4 linked regions of the Homo sapiens genome follow. The protein of the gene in region 1 interacts with the protein of each later gene in a biochemical or structural test. Each region holds a gene or a part of one and is shown on either strand. Other genes may lie near its edges.

Region 1 (5,292 bases):
ACATAATTAAAGATACTATCAAAATACCAGTGAGCTATATTAATAGAAATATAGACATACCAAAGTTATTTTTCTCATCATTCCTAAATATATTATTAGGAAATTGATGAAATAATTCATATTCATCCATTCATTTAAGAAATATTTACTGAGCACTTAATGTGTGCCAGGCACTCTTCTAAGCACTAGAGACAAAGAATTGAACAAAGACAAAATCTCTACTCTCAGGGAGCTTAATATTCTTTGGGGAAGATGGATAATAAACATGTATACAGGCTAAGTATCCCAAATCCAAAAATTGAAAATCCAAAATCCTCCAAAATCCAAAACTTTTTGAGCACCAACGTGACCCTCAAAGGAAATGCTCATTGGAGCATTTTGGATTTAGGATTGTCAGATTTGGGATGCTCAACAGGTAAGTATAATGCAATATTAAAAAAAAAAAAATTGGAAGCACTTCTGGTCCCAGGTATTTTGAAGAAGGAGTACTCAACCTGTATATGTAGAATCGTGTTGGTAGATAATTCTTCATGAGTCTCATGTTTCTGTACATCTTACAAGCCGAGGCATTGAGAGTCTTTGTTCTAGACTGTCTTTTCAAAGACGTTCGTGTAATGAACAGCCTTGGACAACAGAGATATGTTTCCATCCTGAGCAAAGGTCAAGCTTGTTTACTGAATGGTATAATAAGGTCAATGCTGTGCTCAATATCTTATTATTAATAACTGTTCTTTATAAAAGATTGGTGTTCCCTAAGTTCAGAGTTCCTTTCCTTTAAGGCAACCCATTATTAGGCATCACTTGGCCATCTGTAGGGTTGGCAAACAGATGAAAATGTTGCCACTGTAGGTACTGCTATTCCTCCTTTTTTTCCTTCCTCTCCTTGATACTCTATTGAATGAGAATGGGGTTAAGTGCAGAGTAAGCAGGAGTACTTTCTTAGGCCAACTGTGAAGGCTTGAACTAGGTTTAGATGCTCAAGAGATACAACTCAGATGGGAGTTTTGCAAGCATGGGCACCAAGTCATTATGATGGTTAACTATTACAGCACTTTGGACAAACTTTTCTTAAAAGTAAGAACTTGCAGACCAAAATAAACTTTCAACTTGAAGTCCACTTGGAAAAAAAAAAACACAACAAGATGCCTGTTTAATTTCTCCTATATAAGAGATTAAACAAAAGTACTATATCAAATTACTTATAGCTGTAGTGATTAAAAGAAAATAAAGGAATGATGGACACAGTATAGCTGTGTCAATGTAAAATGAAACCACTTTTGGACTATCCTAATGATTAGTTCTGTTGTCTATAGTTTGTTATCCTCAGGGCACAGAAATAGTAAAAACATTTTAAATTTGTTACTTTAAACTAAAACTCCATTGGATGATGTGCCAAATGACTTTTTTCTCCAAATCCTAATGAATACATTCCTGTAGCTGAGTGTTATAGGGAGTATTATCTAAAATTATCAAGTCTAACAAACCTCTAAAAAGAGGAGATGGTTCATCATAAAAATATATGAAAATAAATTCTGAAAGCAAGTGTAGTATACCCAATATTTTTAAATGTTTAGTAGAAAATTTTCCCATTCTATGAAATAAATATTATATCCACTTCTCATTCTCCCAGACATTTGTTTTCCTCTAGTGTTTCTGAACACTTCTGTGAAGTGACTCAGAGATGGCTGGCTTCCCGGACATCGCACCTTTGCAGTGGACATCCTAAACCCAAGGAAAGGTCTTTCTCCATAAGTACACGGGAGTCATTAATATGATCTGTCCCATTTCAAAGGCTAAAAGGGAATGAATTATATGATTGATTTGCATTGTTAAATAAGAAATGGCCTGGGTAGAAATATGAGAAAATTTTTATTAAGAGATATATTTAAGAACCAAATAAAATATTTTAAAAAGAGATCAGTTTATCACAGTTCCTCAATGTAAAGTTAAATTATGTGAGAAAAGCCATCAATTTCTCAGTATATACTTAACATCAAACAACATGTGTACTAAAGGGCTACTACATAAGGCACCAAGGGCTATGAAAATATATATGCAAAAGTTTGTTTACTGCTGTGTTTATACTATATATAAAATGAATATACAACTTAAATTATTTTTGACAAAAGATTATTGTATATAAATGTAGGAAAAGGGAGGATATATAACAAAATGTTGTCTTTGGGTATATGGAATTTTTCTTTTTTGCTTAATTGTATTTTCTAAATTGTCTACAATGAACGTATATTATTACTATCACAAAAAGAAAAAAAACTCATATTTTACCAAAAAACCCCCCACTGAGGTAGGCAGCATAATTGCCCCCCAAAGATGTCTATGTTTCAATCCCTGAAATCTCTGAATATGCTACCTTACACAGCAAGAAGGACTTTGCAGTTGTAATTAACTTAAAAGATTGGAAGACTGTCCTGGATTATCCGAATGATCGTCAGGTAAAGATAAAGGTCTTTATAGGAGGAAGGCAAAAGTGTCAGGGTCAGCATGAGAGAGACTGGAAGATGCTATGCTGCTGGCTTTGATGATGGAGGACAGGACCACAAGCCAAAGAATGCAGGTAGCCTCTGAAAGCTGGCCAAGGAATGGGATTCTTCCCTGGAGCCTCCAAAAGGAATGTAGCCCTGTGGACACCTTGATTTTCATACAAGAAGACCCATTTTAGATTTCTGGCTTACATTATTGCAAGATGATAAATCTGTATTGTTTTAAACCACTAAGTTTGTGGTAATTTGTCACGGCAGCAATAGAAGATGAATGCACTAGCCTAGTAATACAAAGCAATCTTTGTGATGCACCAAAAAAGGAATCACGAATGCTAAAAAGCAAAGATGGACACACAAGGTGTATCTGGAGGTCAGTTAGGAAAAAAATAAATCAGGCTTGCTTGTTAGAGGTGGGGATTTATGGATAGAAGGAGTGGCACATATGTATGGGACAGAAAAATGAGATCAAATTGTGAATTGAAATTGATCCTTTTAATTAAGCCAAATTTGACTTCAGGGAAAGGGAATCTGGTTTTTGAAAAGCAGTTACTATACTGCCATTTTATACATTCAAAACTCAATGTTTTCTGCCAATGCATTTACTAACAATAAATTTTGTTATTTTTTTTTGAGTTTCAATCTCAACCCCTCGTCTATAATATGTGGGCACCAAACTAGAGAGAATTAAGGCCCCTCCCAACCTACCATTCTGAAGTCCTTGAATAATGGTACCAACTTGCTTTTGTGAAAACTGTTAAATGAAGAAAAATCAGACATTTATCCTGCCTTTCCTGTCTAAACCATATGTCAAGGTTACCAGAGGTGAGGGGGAGCTTCTTTTTATGAAAGTAGTCTAACTGAAATATTGAGAAAGACTGACAGAATTGGAATATCACCATTTTGCAGTCCCTTAATGAATTAATGGATTTAGGCAATGATCATCAATAACTGTTAATATCACAAAAAGAAAAACAGCAGATAATATGTTGTTCCTGATGGAAGCACACAGACCACCTATAAAATATGTTTGATAGGCCTCAAGATCTAACTACCAACTCACAGGAAACACCACTGAAAGGGGGGCACGTTAAATGAATTCTGGCTCCTTTTACAGAACTAAAAGAACAAACCATAGAGATATTTAGTTCTATCCTATCATTTCACAAGAAGGAAAGTAGAGGACCCAAGAGAATGTAAGTATGTATTAGCCCCTGTTCCAGTCATCTATTGTTGCATAATAAGTCATCCAAACAATTTTTTTTTTTTTTTTTGAGACAGAGTCTCACTGTGTTCCCCCAGGCTGGAGTGCGGTGGTACAATCTTGGCTCATTGCAACCTCTGCCTCCCAGGTTCAAGTGATTCTCGTGCCCCAGCCTCCCCAGCAGCTGAGATTACAGGCATGCACCACAAGGCCCAGCTAAGTTTTGTATTTTTTAGTAGACACGGGGTCTTGCCATGTTGGCCAGGCTGGTCTCAAACTCCTGGCCTCAAGTGATCTGCCCACCTTGGCCTCCCAAAGTGCTGGGATTACAAGTGTTAGCCACCACGCCAGGCCTATCCAAATAATTCTGAGGCTTAAAACAACAACAGTTGGCCAGGCACGGTGGCTCACGCCTGTAATCCCAGCACTTTGTGAGGCTGAGGCGGGTGGATCACCTGAGGTCAGGAGTTCAAGACCAGCCTGACCAACATGGTGAAACTCCATCTCTACTAAAAAATACAAAAAAATTAGTCAGGCATGGTGGTGGGTGCCAGTAATCCCAACTACTCAGGAGGCTGAGGCAGAAGAATCGCTTGAACCCGGGAGGTAGAGGTTGAAGTGAGCCAAGATGGTGCCATTGCACTCTAGCCTGAGTGACAACAGCAAAACTCCATCTCAAAAATAAATAAATAAATAAATAAAATAAAAAATAAAAAAATAACAACAACAATAATTTATCATCTCTCCTGGTTCTGGGGTTAACTGGGGTCAGCTGTGGTTCTCACTTGGGATTCCTCATGCAGTTACAGGCAGATGGTGGTTGGGGCTGGAGTCATCTTAAAGGCTTCTCACTCACATCTGGTGGCGAGGGCTTCAGTTGGGGCTATCAGCTGGATCACTGGTGTCTTGACCTCTTCACACAATGGTGACTGGGTTCTAAGGGCAAGTATCCCCAAAATAACCAGGCAGAAGCTGCATCACCTTTTATGATCCAACCTCTTAAGTCACATGGCACCAATTAAGCTGTAGTCACCGGCCCACCCAGATTCAATGACACAGAGCACAACTCTCCATGGGAGGAGTATCAACACTACATTTTAAGAAAGTGTGCAGATCCTGTTGAGATCATTCTGGAACACATACTTTGCCACAGATGCCCTTCTTACAAGATTCCATATGATCCTCCTTGTAAACCCCTATGATGACACTTATCAGACAGTGAGGAGCTGCCTGCCTATCTGTAACCCGTCTCTTCCACTAAAACATAGCTCCTTTCAAGAAATAATTGGATCAGTAAAGTAATCTTTGTATTCCTGGCACTTAGCAGATGCTAAAAAAACAAACTGTCAAATCAGTGAACAAACAAATGAAATTCAGATTTAAAGTTGGAAATATTTGTAAATTTATCTGTAAATGTTCTTCATTTAAACCTCTTATGCTAGATAAACTTAAAAGACTGTCAGCTTTTAGAACTGTTATTACTTTTAAATTTTAGTAATAATATATCCTCAAATTTTACTCATTTATCTTTAAGTAATTAGATTGCTACTAACTCAAACATTGTATCTAACAGCTTAAAATTTATCAGCA
Region 2 (3,500 bases), on another chromosome or scaffold:
CAAACATGCAGCTGCCTGAGGCAGAGGGGACCGGAGGACACAGAGCTCAGAGAACACAAAGCCTGCCTGGCTGGGGGCAGAGCTGGGGGAGGGGCAGCCGCTATCCCAGACCCCTCCCCCTCCCCCAGCCCCATCCCATGCTGAGTCAGAGGTTGGGAGTTTCCCATAGCTGGTCCCTGGAGCTCTACAGGAAGCCCCTGTCTCCAGGGACAAGGCGGCTCCCTGCCCACCCTCAGGGCCCCAAAGTTCCGCAAGGGCACCCCACAGGCAGCAGATGGGTGGGACTCGCCAGGGGCGGGGCTGATATAAGAATGCGCCAGCAACCACCACTGTTGGGGCAGCCCTGTGCCAGGCACTACAGGCCCCTAATCATCTCCCAGCGCCACCCAAGCCCACGAGGGGACCAGAGGCACCGCCCCTCAGGTTAGCATTGAGGCTGAGGCTCAGGAGACTCGATGCTCCGGGGTCCTCCTGCATATAGGGAGCAGCACAGGGTCGAGACCACACATACCCCTGCCCAGGCACACACACCCACGCACACACACCCCTGCCCAGGCACACACACCCACGCACACACACCCCTGCCCATGCACACATACCTGTCCATGCACACACACATCCCTGCCCACGCACACACACCCCTGGCCAGGTACACACACCCACGCACACCCCTGCCCACGCACACACACCCCTGGCCAGGCACACACACCCACGCACACCCCTGCCCATGCACACACACCCCTGCCCACACACATACCCCTGGCCAGGCACACACACCCACGCACATACACCCCTGCCCACGCACACACACCTGTCCACGCACACACACCCCTGCCCACACACACATCCATGCACATACACCCATGCATACACACCAGGGTGCCGGATGCTCCCGAGCCACCCTCCGGGCCTTGGGGCCAGCCCACTCACACACACCCCTGACCACGCACACACAGCCATGCACAGACACCCTTGCCCACGCACACACACCTACTCACATACATCCCTGACCACGCAGATACACAGACATCCCTGCCCACGCACACACACCCACTCACACACACCTGACCGAAAACACAGCCACTCACACACACCCCTACCCACTCACACATAACCCTGACCACGCATACACACCCCTGCCCACGCACACACATCCCTGCCTGTGCACACACCCGTCCATGCACACACATCCATGCACACACCCGCGCACACACAACCATGCATACACACCCCTGCCCCACACCCATGCACACACACTGCTGCCCAGGCACACAAACCCATGCACACCTACACACACACATACCTGCCCACGCACACACAACCCTGTCCACACACACCCGTGCAGACACACCCGTGCAGACACCCCTGCCCATGCATACACACCCTTGCCCATGCATACACACCCCTGCCCCCACACACCCATGCATACACACCAGGGTGCTGGATGCTCCCGAGCCACCCTCCAGGCCTCGGGGCCAGCCCACTCACACACACCACTGACCATGCACACACAGCCATGCACAGACACCCCACCCCACACACACACCCACGCACACACACCCCACCCCACCCCACGCACATACCCCCGTGCATGGCTGCAGCTGCATGTCCAGCCTCTCTACCTCCAGGCCCTGCAACCAGAGCTCAGGTCCAGCCACCAGACACCTTTGGGTGGAACATGACCCAGAGCTGCAACTCGAGGCTTCCTGCCTACAGGTGAGCAGCTTGTGGCCACCACTGCCTGGATCATGCAGCCCTCTGTGCCTGGACGTCCTGGTGGGGTGGTGCTTGGCAGTGGGGCAGGGTTGTACCCCTGGGAAGTGCTCCACGTCTTAAGAACGACCAGGATGCCACAGCCCCAGTGCTTAGCCCGGCCCTGGGGCCAGCTCTTGGTGGCCTCAAGGACCCTCAGAGGTCATCACACTCCGCGGGAGCCAGCAGCTGCTCTAAACCATCCACATCAAGGTGCAGCGCAGGCTCCCAGGGGCCTGCTGATGACAGTGCGGTGCCCACGGGGGGAGGCACCTTCCTGGCAGAGGACCCTGTGTGGAAGGCTGTGGCGTGGCCTCACCTCTGACTGGCACCCAGGACATCCAGGATGTTGGAGAAGAGGTGGTGGTGCTCCATCTGGGTCACGGTCGCCCGCAGCTCCTTGGACTGCAGGAACTCCTCCACCAGGATGCTCAGGCTGTGCTGGTAGGAGAACTCCGACGTGAGGATCTCGAACATGGCCTGTGGAGAGGGGCCTAGGTGAGCCCCACAGTGACGCTGGACACGGGCGTGCCTCGGTGACCAATGCTTGGAACAGGAGGACGTGACCCGGGTGGCAGGGGCAGGTGGGGACAGGAACCCCAGACACACCCCTGGATGGGGCTGTCAGAATGGCCAGCTTGGAGATGCCAGCCCGACGTCCCTGGATGCCCCTGGCTGGGTGCCTTATGAGCCGGCTGAAGCTGGGCAACGACCCCCGTCCTTGTCAGAGAAGGGGGTGATGGCAGCCCCTGGACTCCGAGGATTCACCCGGTGACGTGAAGGGGCTCCGTCAGGGCCTGGCGCAGGTGGAAGCACAGCCCGGGGCTGTGTGAGGCGCTGGTCAGCGTGACAGGGCCTGGCACTGGAGGTGGCCGCAGAGGGATGGCTGGGTGGTGCCACCGTGGCTGCTGCCCCTCCCCGGGTGTTGCATGGCCCAGGCCATGGGGGACAGCCCTCCCGCCCAGGGCCCTTTTACCTCCTGCCTTTTCCGCTCCTCAGTGGAGAGCTGGTCCAGGATGCCCAATTCCACCACCTGGGGGGACACAGGCCCAGGAGCTCTCGGTCACACGTCCTAGAAGCCTGGGCCAAAGTCTCCCTTCTTTCCTCCTCCTGATGGACCAGGGCCAACATGGACAGCCACCCCACAGGGCTCAGGTAGGTCCGATCCTGGAGTAGGCCTGTCCTGCCGAGGGCCTATCCCCGTCACCTTCCTCTCTGTGTAACCCGCCTTGGGTCAGCCCCCCGCTCCCCCCAGCCGCCAGAGCCCCAAAGCAGCCCAGAAAGAGCATGGGGCATCCAGAGGGAGAGGCCAGAGGGCGGGGGGGGATCTTGTCCCACAGATCTTCCCGGCAGATGGAGAGGTGCGGAGCCCACCCAGGGAGGGAGTGTGGAGGGCAGGACTGTGACTCAGACCCCACCTGGGCGAGGCGAGTCAGTGCCCTGCCTGGAAGCTATGGGTGACGCTGTTTCCGCCCGGGCTCCCTCCTCCTCGGGGCCCACAGCTGGCGGGTCGCCTTGGCGGGAGTGTGGCTCGATTGGTAGAGCACGTCAGGACCAGGAGGGCTGCCACACCGCCCAGGGGTCCCCTCTGCAGGACTCAGGCCACCCTGATTCGTGCTCTGCTCCTCACTGGGCTGGGCAGAAAGGCCGCCAACAGCGCCTGGGCCAAGGGTGAGTCCCCCATTCCCCAAACCAGTGCCTCCTTCCCATGCAGGGTCGGAAACTCTGGCAGTTACCAGGGTGCGGTA
Region 3 (3,500 bases), on another chromosome or scaffold:
CCTCAGCCTCCCAAAGTGCTGCGATTACAGGCGTGAGCCACCATGCCCGGCTAAAACATCTTATATTCTTTATTTTCAACTTACTTTGACATATTTTAACAGACGCAATGGAATGAATGAGGACCATGAGGGAAGTGGGAGCACCACAGTAGTAAAGCTGGGTTGAGGTTGAAAGCCCTCACTCCAGAAACAAATACCTGGACACAGCCAGCATTTAAGTATGGATGTTCATATGCTAGGAGGCCAGGGCATTAGGTTGGCTGAAAAGCTACTACAAGAAATTATTTCCTACCTAAAACTTACTCTTACAACACACTTGACTCTTCTATGATACAACCATCTCTATTATATTATAGTAATATTAAGTATCAATGTAATATTTACCAGATCCTGAAATCCTAATGATCAAACTAAAATCTGAGAAACATTTTGCTTTCAAAGCGTAATCAATGAGTAACAGAAGAATCTTTATTTTTTAGAGATAAAATCTTGCTCTGTCACCCAGAGAGGAGTACAGTGGCATGATCATAGCTCACTGCTGGGCTCAAGCAATCCTCCTACCTCAGCCTCCGAAGTAACTGGGACTACACATACATGCTACCACACCCAGCTAATTTTTAATTTTTATGTAGAGACAGGGTCTTGCTATGTTGCCTAGGCTGAACTCCTGGCCTCTCGCTATCCTCCTGCCACAGCCTCCTAAAGTGCTCGCATTAAAGGTGTGAGCCACCGCGCCTGACTGAAACGCTCTTTAGTAAATGAAAACACTCTCTAATAACAGTGACAGTGATTTATGGTGACTCAGAATACTGGCCAAAAAGAGGGCTTAAGATAATAAATATAACCTATCATCTCCCTTTTTATTGGCCTGAGTAAAATATCATTAACTGCAATTAAAAGAAAACATATACTCTATGACAGCACCAACTGAGCAGCAATAAAGGAAAGCCAAGTATGTATGTCGTAAAAAGATACCAATTAACACACTACCCAATTCCCTGAAGTTCCTTTTCAGATTCAGAGCCTATAACATGTCTCTCTAGGATCCATCCTTATGAATGAAATCCTCAGGCTAAATCTTTGACCAAACAATTAATGACAGGTCCCTTTGTGCCTGAGTTTGATGTGTGTCTGTGATCTAACGAAGCAATAATGCTATTGATTAAATAACTGGGATCTCTAAAATTCTACACACGAACTCTATAACTGTAGATGCCATGGGCTCCTCCTCCCCTAATGAAGGATCCTTGTCATCAGGTCTTGTTTATAAACCCACATCAAAGACTGTACCGCATTCAAATTACATCACTACAAGCTAAAGGGCAAGTATGTTATCTTATACATTGACACTGTCCAAATTATGAAAGGAAAAGACCCGTATTCAAGCTAATCCATTACCTATCTCCTCAAGTTCACTGCTTTACATGTGACTCAGCAATAGAAAATTACCCCAGTTCCCCAATGTCAGTACCAGAGGGTATATGTGTAGAGAAGACCATGTACCTGCACAGTTGGGCTGAGCACTATAGAAATGTTCTGTATATTCATTTTTGTTTCCAGTTCCTTTGCAATGACATGGTCCATGTGCACAATGAGCCAAGAAATCAGAAGATAGTTACATTCTGGCAGTTCTTTGAGTAAACGCTGGAATTCCTGCACTTTCTCAGTCTCCGTGGTCCTCCCACAAGCCTCTTCAAATCTGGGCATAAGCTCTTTGGTAAGCAAATTCTCTGGAAGGTCTCGCAAATACTGCTTCAGCAAACTGGCTACAGTGTTAGGCTCATAGTCTTCCAAGTTTGTAGACTCCTCCCGGTCATAGGCTGCTTTTAGCTCATCCACCTTTGATTTAATTCCTTAAAACATTCAAATTCAGAAGAGAGAAGATACTGAGAAAAGAAAATCAAACACACAAGTTTTCTTTACCATTATCCCCACCCTTGCTAAGGAGATGAGAACAGCAACCTGACCAATAACGAACCTCTTGTTATGAAATATTTATCTGCACAAAGGTCGTACAGTTCCTCTGTAAACACTAACATGTAAGACTACACTTGGCTGGGCGCAGTGGCTCACACCCATAATCCCAGCACTTTGGAAGGCTGAGGCGGGCAGATAGCTTGAGCCCAGGAATTCGAGACTAGCTGGACAACATGGTCAAAACCTATCTCTACAAAAAATACAAAAATTAGCTGGGCATGGTGGCGTGCGCCTGTGGTCCAAGTTCTTTGGGAGGCTGAGTTGGGAGGATCACTTGATCCTGGGAGGTTGAGTCTGCAGTGAGCCATAATTGCACCACTGGACTCCAGCCTGGGCAACAGAGTAAGACACTGTCTCAAAAAATAAAAAAAATAATTAAAAACAGGCCAGGCACCATGGATCACACCTGTAATCCCAGCACTTTGGGAGGCCAAGGCAGGAGGATTATTTGAGGTCAGGAGTCCAACACCAGCCTGGCTAACATGGCAAAAACCTGTCTCTACTAAAAATACAAAAATTAGCCAGGCGTGGTGGTGTGCGCCTGTAATCCCAGCTACTTGGGAGGCTGAGGCAGGAGAATCACTTGAACCTGGGAGGCAGAGGTTGCAGTGAGCCGAGATCACACCACTGCACTTCAGCTTGGGTGACAGAGCAAGACTCCATCTAAAAACAAAAAACAAAAAACAAACCCAAAAAACTAACTTCAAAAGTGAATTTAACCAAAAGTTAAATGATAATTGAAAAGCTCAACAGTCAGAAGTCAAAGCAACCATGGATATATTAAGCAAATATGCCCATTAATTCAGGAATTTGTTTTTAATGTAAAAACATTACACAGTGGCGCACACCTGTAATCCCAGTACTTTGGGAGGCCGAGGTAGGTGGATCACCTGAGGTAGGGAGTTCAAGACCAGCCTGGCCAACATGGTGAAACCCTGTCTCTACTAAAAATACAAAAATTAGCTGGGCATTGTGGCGGGTGCCTGTACTCCCAGCTACTCAGGAGGCTGAGGCAGGAGAATCGCTTGAACCCAGGAGGTGGAGGTTGCAGTGAGCCGAGGTCACACTACTGTATTCCAGCCTGGGTGAAAAGTGAAACTCTGTCTCAAAAAAATAAAAAAAAAGGTAAAAAGACAAAAATTAAACTACAATCCAAGTGTAAGTCTGGCTCTACACAGGCAGCCAGCTGCTTTTTCTAACAAGTCACAAGACTGACCACAAAAAAATGTGGCTTGGTGTACCTAAGTATGTTCCAAAAAGTTGTGGGTAAATTACTTTTTTATGTGTAAATATTGTACTGTAATTGCAAAGGGTGAATTAGCTACCCAAACAAACACTTTGAAAATTATTCTCCATTAAATCATCCCCATCTAATTTCTATTTTAAAGTTTGGATTATTTTAAGTATAACCTTAATCTGAACAGAGCTGGAACAAAAAAAATAAAGTATGGGTTTCTAAAATCGTTTTGCTTATTGAACAAAAGGAAACTAAAGCAAATGATTTGCAAACATTACATAAGATT
Region 4 (2,899 bases), on another chromosome or scaffold:
TCATCCTCATTCAGAGTAATCCATTCTTCATTAGTTTGCTTTAGAAACAAATAAGGAAGTGTGTAGTCTCAGGCTGCTTGCAGTCAGCTTGTTTCCATGAGAGGATTCACCCATGTGGCAGAGCCAACATCTGGGGAGGAAAGCCCACAGATGTCCTGGTTGAACAAGGCCTGAAGTCCAACTTCCCTCGGTATATTTCAGTTATATGAGATAATCAAATCCCTTTATTATGTAAGCCACTTGGGGTAGGGTTTTCTGTTACTTGCAACTAAAAATATCCCAAGTAACATATCAAAATCTCTCTAACCCCAGAAAGTGACTTTCCTCACCCCAAGAAAGGACTTGCCTCCCATGGCAGGACTAGATGGGCTTCTCTCAAGAACTGAAATACAACTCTGGTCCTTTCCTGCTTTCCTTTCTTCTGTCAATGTTCAGTTTCCATTTCTGATGGGCTTTCTTGTCTTTTTTTGTTTTTGTTTTAAAAAACAACTCAGAATTAGTTTGAATTTTAAAATTTAATTTTAACTTAATTTTTATTTTACTTCAGAAATACATATTCACAAGTTAGGCAATTACACAGTTCGTAAAATAAGTCCCCACCCTATCCTCCCACCCCAGCTTCTCCATAGAGGTAACCCCTGCCCATTCTTTCTTCTGCTTCTACCTGTATTTACCTCCTATTGCTAAATAATATGGTTGTACAGCTATTCATCATTTTCCAGATTTAGTTATTATGCATTTTCTGTGATAGAATATGGCAACCTAGGTCTCTTATACCTCTCCCACACACGTACACATCTTCTCCCTTCATTTCCTGAAAAAAAGGTTATATCACAGTATTTCACTCCAGCAGCACCCCCTTATCTGTGGGAGTTGCATTCCAAGACCCTGAATACGAATAGCACCAAACCCAAATAGTACCAAACCCGATTGCTGTCAATTGGAACACATTTCTGTTCATGTCTTCCACCCACAAATTTAATACCTTTTCATCTTAACTAAGTGTTTATCACACACCGTGGGGTGTAATAAATAATTTTTGCAGCTTGTGGTGCAACAGCAAAACTAGCACAAATTTCTTTTGCCTTCTTCACAATTTTACAGATGGATTTGTTCTTACTGTAGATCTTAGCAACTTCAGCATGTGTTTTTTTTCTTTCCTTATTAAGTCAAGAACTTTCACATTTTCTGTTAGAGGAAGCACTTTACAGCTTCTCTTTGGTGTATCTTATTTGCCAGCATCACTACTCTTATGCTTTGGGGACATTAGTAAGTAAAATAAGAGTGACTTTAACACAAGCACTGTTATACCACAACAGTTGATCTGAGCAACTGGATGATGACTAAGTGACTCATGGGTGGGTAGCATATACATTGTGGATCCACTGGAGAAATCTCACACCATCCCACTTTGCCCTGCCCAGAACATGGGTGGAGGGTGATAGTGCGAGATTTCAACATGCTACTCAAAACAGCACATGTTTTAAAACTTAAGAATTATTTCTGGAATTTTCCATTTAATATTTTCAGACTGGCTGGCTGTAACTGAACTGCAGAAAGCAAAACCACAGATAATGGGAGACTATTATATTCACATTATCCTCTATGTAAATATTATTCACAGCTGAGCCATGTAGTGTACTGTGGTTATATTTCCTCTCTAATACAAAAGTTTCTTTTCCTCTAGCACTTAAAAACTGTATTGCGTTTTTACTTGCTTATTTTTCTATGTATTTACGACTAGTTTATCTCAATCTCTGCAAGAGAAATCTAAATCCCTCTCAATGTGTATGAATCAATTAATTTCTTCTTTTTCTGGGAGACATCTCTCCTAGAGTCCTTTAAGAGTCCTGCTCCAACATGAATGACTTGCTTTCTAAGCCTGCTACACACCAACATCCTGGGAATTCTCTTCACTTTCTCCTGCGTTGGATTCCTTGTTTCCCAGCTACTGTGTTTTCCTCTATCTTGGTTTAATCTCTTATTTTGGAGGATCTTTTATACTCAAAAGGTCTCTATCTACTCTCACATTTATTTGTTGGTGCCTTTCATGTTACGGCCTTTCCCTCAAATGTATTGTGTTCATTGACTACTTTTCATAATTAAGAATGAGGCTCTGACAGGTTGACCAAATGCTGTGAGTGGAAGGGATTTGTTGCATTGTGGGCTTCATCGTCAGGTGAGTAATAGGGCAGACACGCAGCTTTTGTGTTGAAGGATCCTCAACTATTTGTATCTGTCAGCCTTTTTTTCAGATTATGCAGTTTCCCCATAGGAGGATCCTCCAGGGTCCTGTCTTGACAGGGTTTGAGTCTGTCTGTCATCATTCTGGTAGCTAAATAAGGAAAGGGTACTGGGATTTTTGTTTAGTATGATGACTGACTTAGTCCCTCCCTACTTTCAGAATGCCATATCACCTCCACCCTTTACTGTACTATGAGTCAACAACTCTGAAGAGAAACTTTTGGTTTTCTTGTGAGAGTGAGGAGGGGGAGGAAATTGGTAGGAAAGGACAGCTTTTATTCAGACTTTCAACCAATCTTCCTGGAAGTTTACAAGGGTAGTGGTGGGGAGAGCACCCAGCCAACACTTCTGCACAGAGATTTTTAAAACTCTTACTAGCTGTGTAAACTTAAACAAGCTTCTTAATTTCTCTAAGCTTCAATTTCTTCAGCTGTAAAATGGAACTCAGAGCTTTGGTGTGAATGTCAAATGGGATCAACAAATGTAAAGTGCCTGGCATAATCTGCCCTGCAGGGAGACTGCATTCAATTGTTGTCAGTACAATGGTCATGGTGATAGTAGTTGGTAGTATCCTTAGCCTTGTTTCAGTGGACAGAAAGGAACCTCTCACACTATCTAGTGTTTTTCTACACTATCTCAAAAGGGAAGGCAGCAT

The links. The genes of interacting proteins can lie anywhere in the genome.
Region 2: the proteins of INTU (region 1) and ARHGEF16 interact in a test that uses a peptide from one of them, tested with the Homo sapiens proteins (one large-scale study listed by IntAct).
Region 3: the proteins of INTU (region 1) and RALBP1 interact in a test that uses a peptide from one of them, tested with the Homo sapiens proteins (one large-scale study listed by IntAct).
Region 4: the proteins of INTU (region 1) and CYSLTR2 interact in a test that uses a peptide from one of them, tested with the Homo sapiens proteins (one large-scale study listed by IntAct).

Annotation. Positions count from the first base shown.
Region 1 is NC_000004.12:127,644,665-127,649,956, reverse strand, and holds part of INTU (protein inturned), read right to left. Parts: intron 1-5,292. UniProt on the Homo sapiens protein: Plays a key role in ciliogenesis and embryonic development.
Region 2 is NC_000001.11:3,468,165-3,471,664, reverse strand, and holds part of ARHGEF16 (rho guanine nucleotide exchange factor 16), read right to left. Parts: intron 2,786-3,500; coding exon 2,729-2,785; intron 2,233-2,728; coding exon 2,072-2,232; intron 1,666-2,071; coding exon of another isoform or gene 1,584-1,665; intron 1-1,583. UniProt on the Homo sapiens protein: Guanyl-nucleotide exchange factor of the RHOG GTPase stimulating the exchange of RHOG-associated GDP for GTP. May play a role in chemotactic cell migration by mediating the activation of RAC1 by EPHA2.
Region 3 is NC_000018.10:9,520,513-9,524,012, reverse strand, and holds part of RALBP1 (ralA-binding protein 1), read right to left. Parts: intron 1,854-3,500; coding exon 1,504-1,853; intron 1-1,503. UniProt on the Homo sapiens protein: Multifunctional protein that functions as a downstream effector of RALA and RALB. As a GTPase-activating protein/GAP can inactivate CDC42 and RAC1 by stimulating their GTPase activity.
Region 4 is NC_000013.11:48,708,828-48,711,726, reverse strand, and holds the end of CYSLTR2 (cysteinyl leukotriene receptor 2), read right to left. Parts: 3' UTR 501-2,899; downstream 1-500. UniProt on the Homo sapiens protein: Receptor for cysteinyl leukotrienes. The response is mediated via a G-protein that activates a phosphatidylinositol-calcium second messenger system.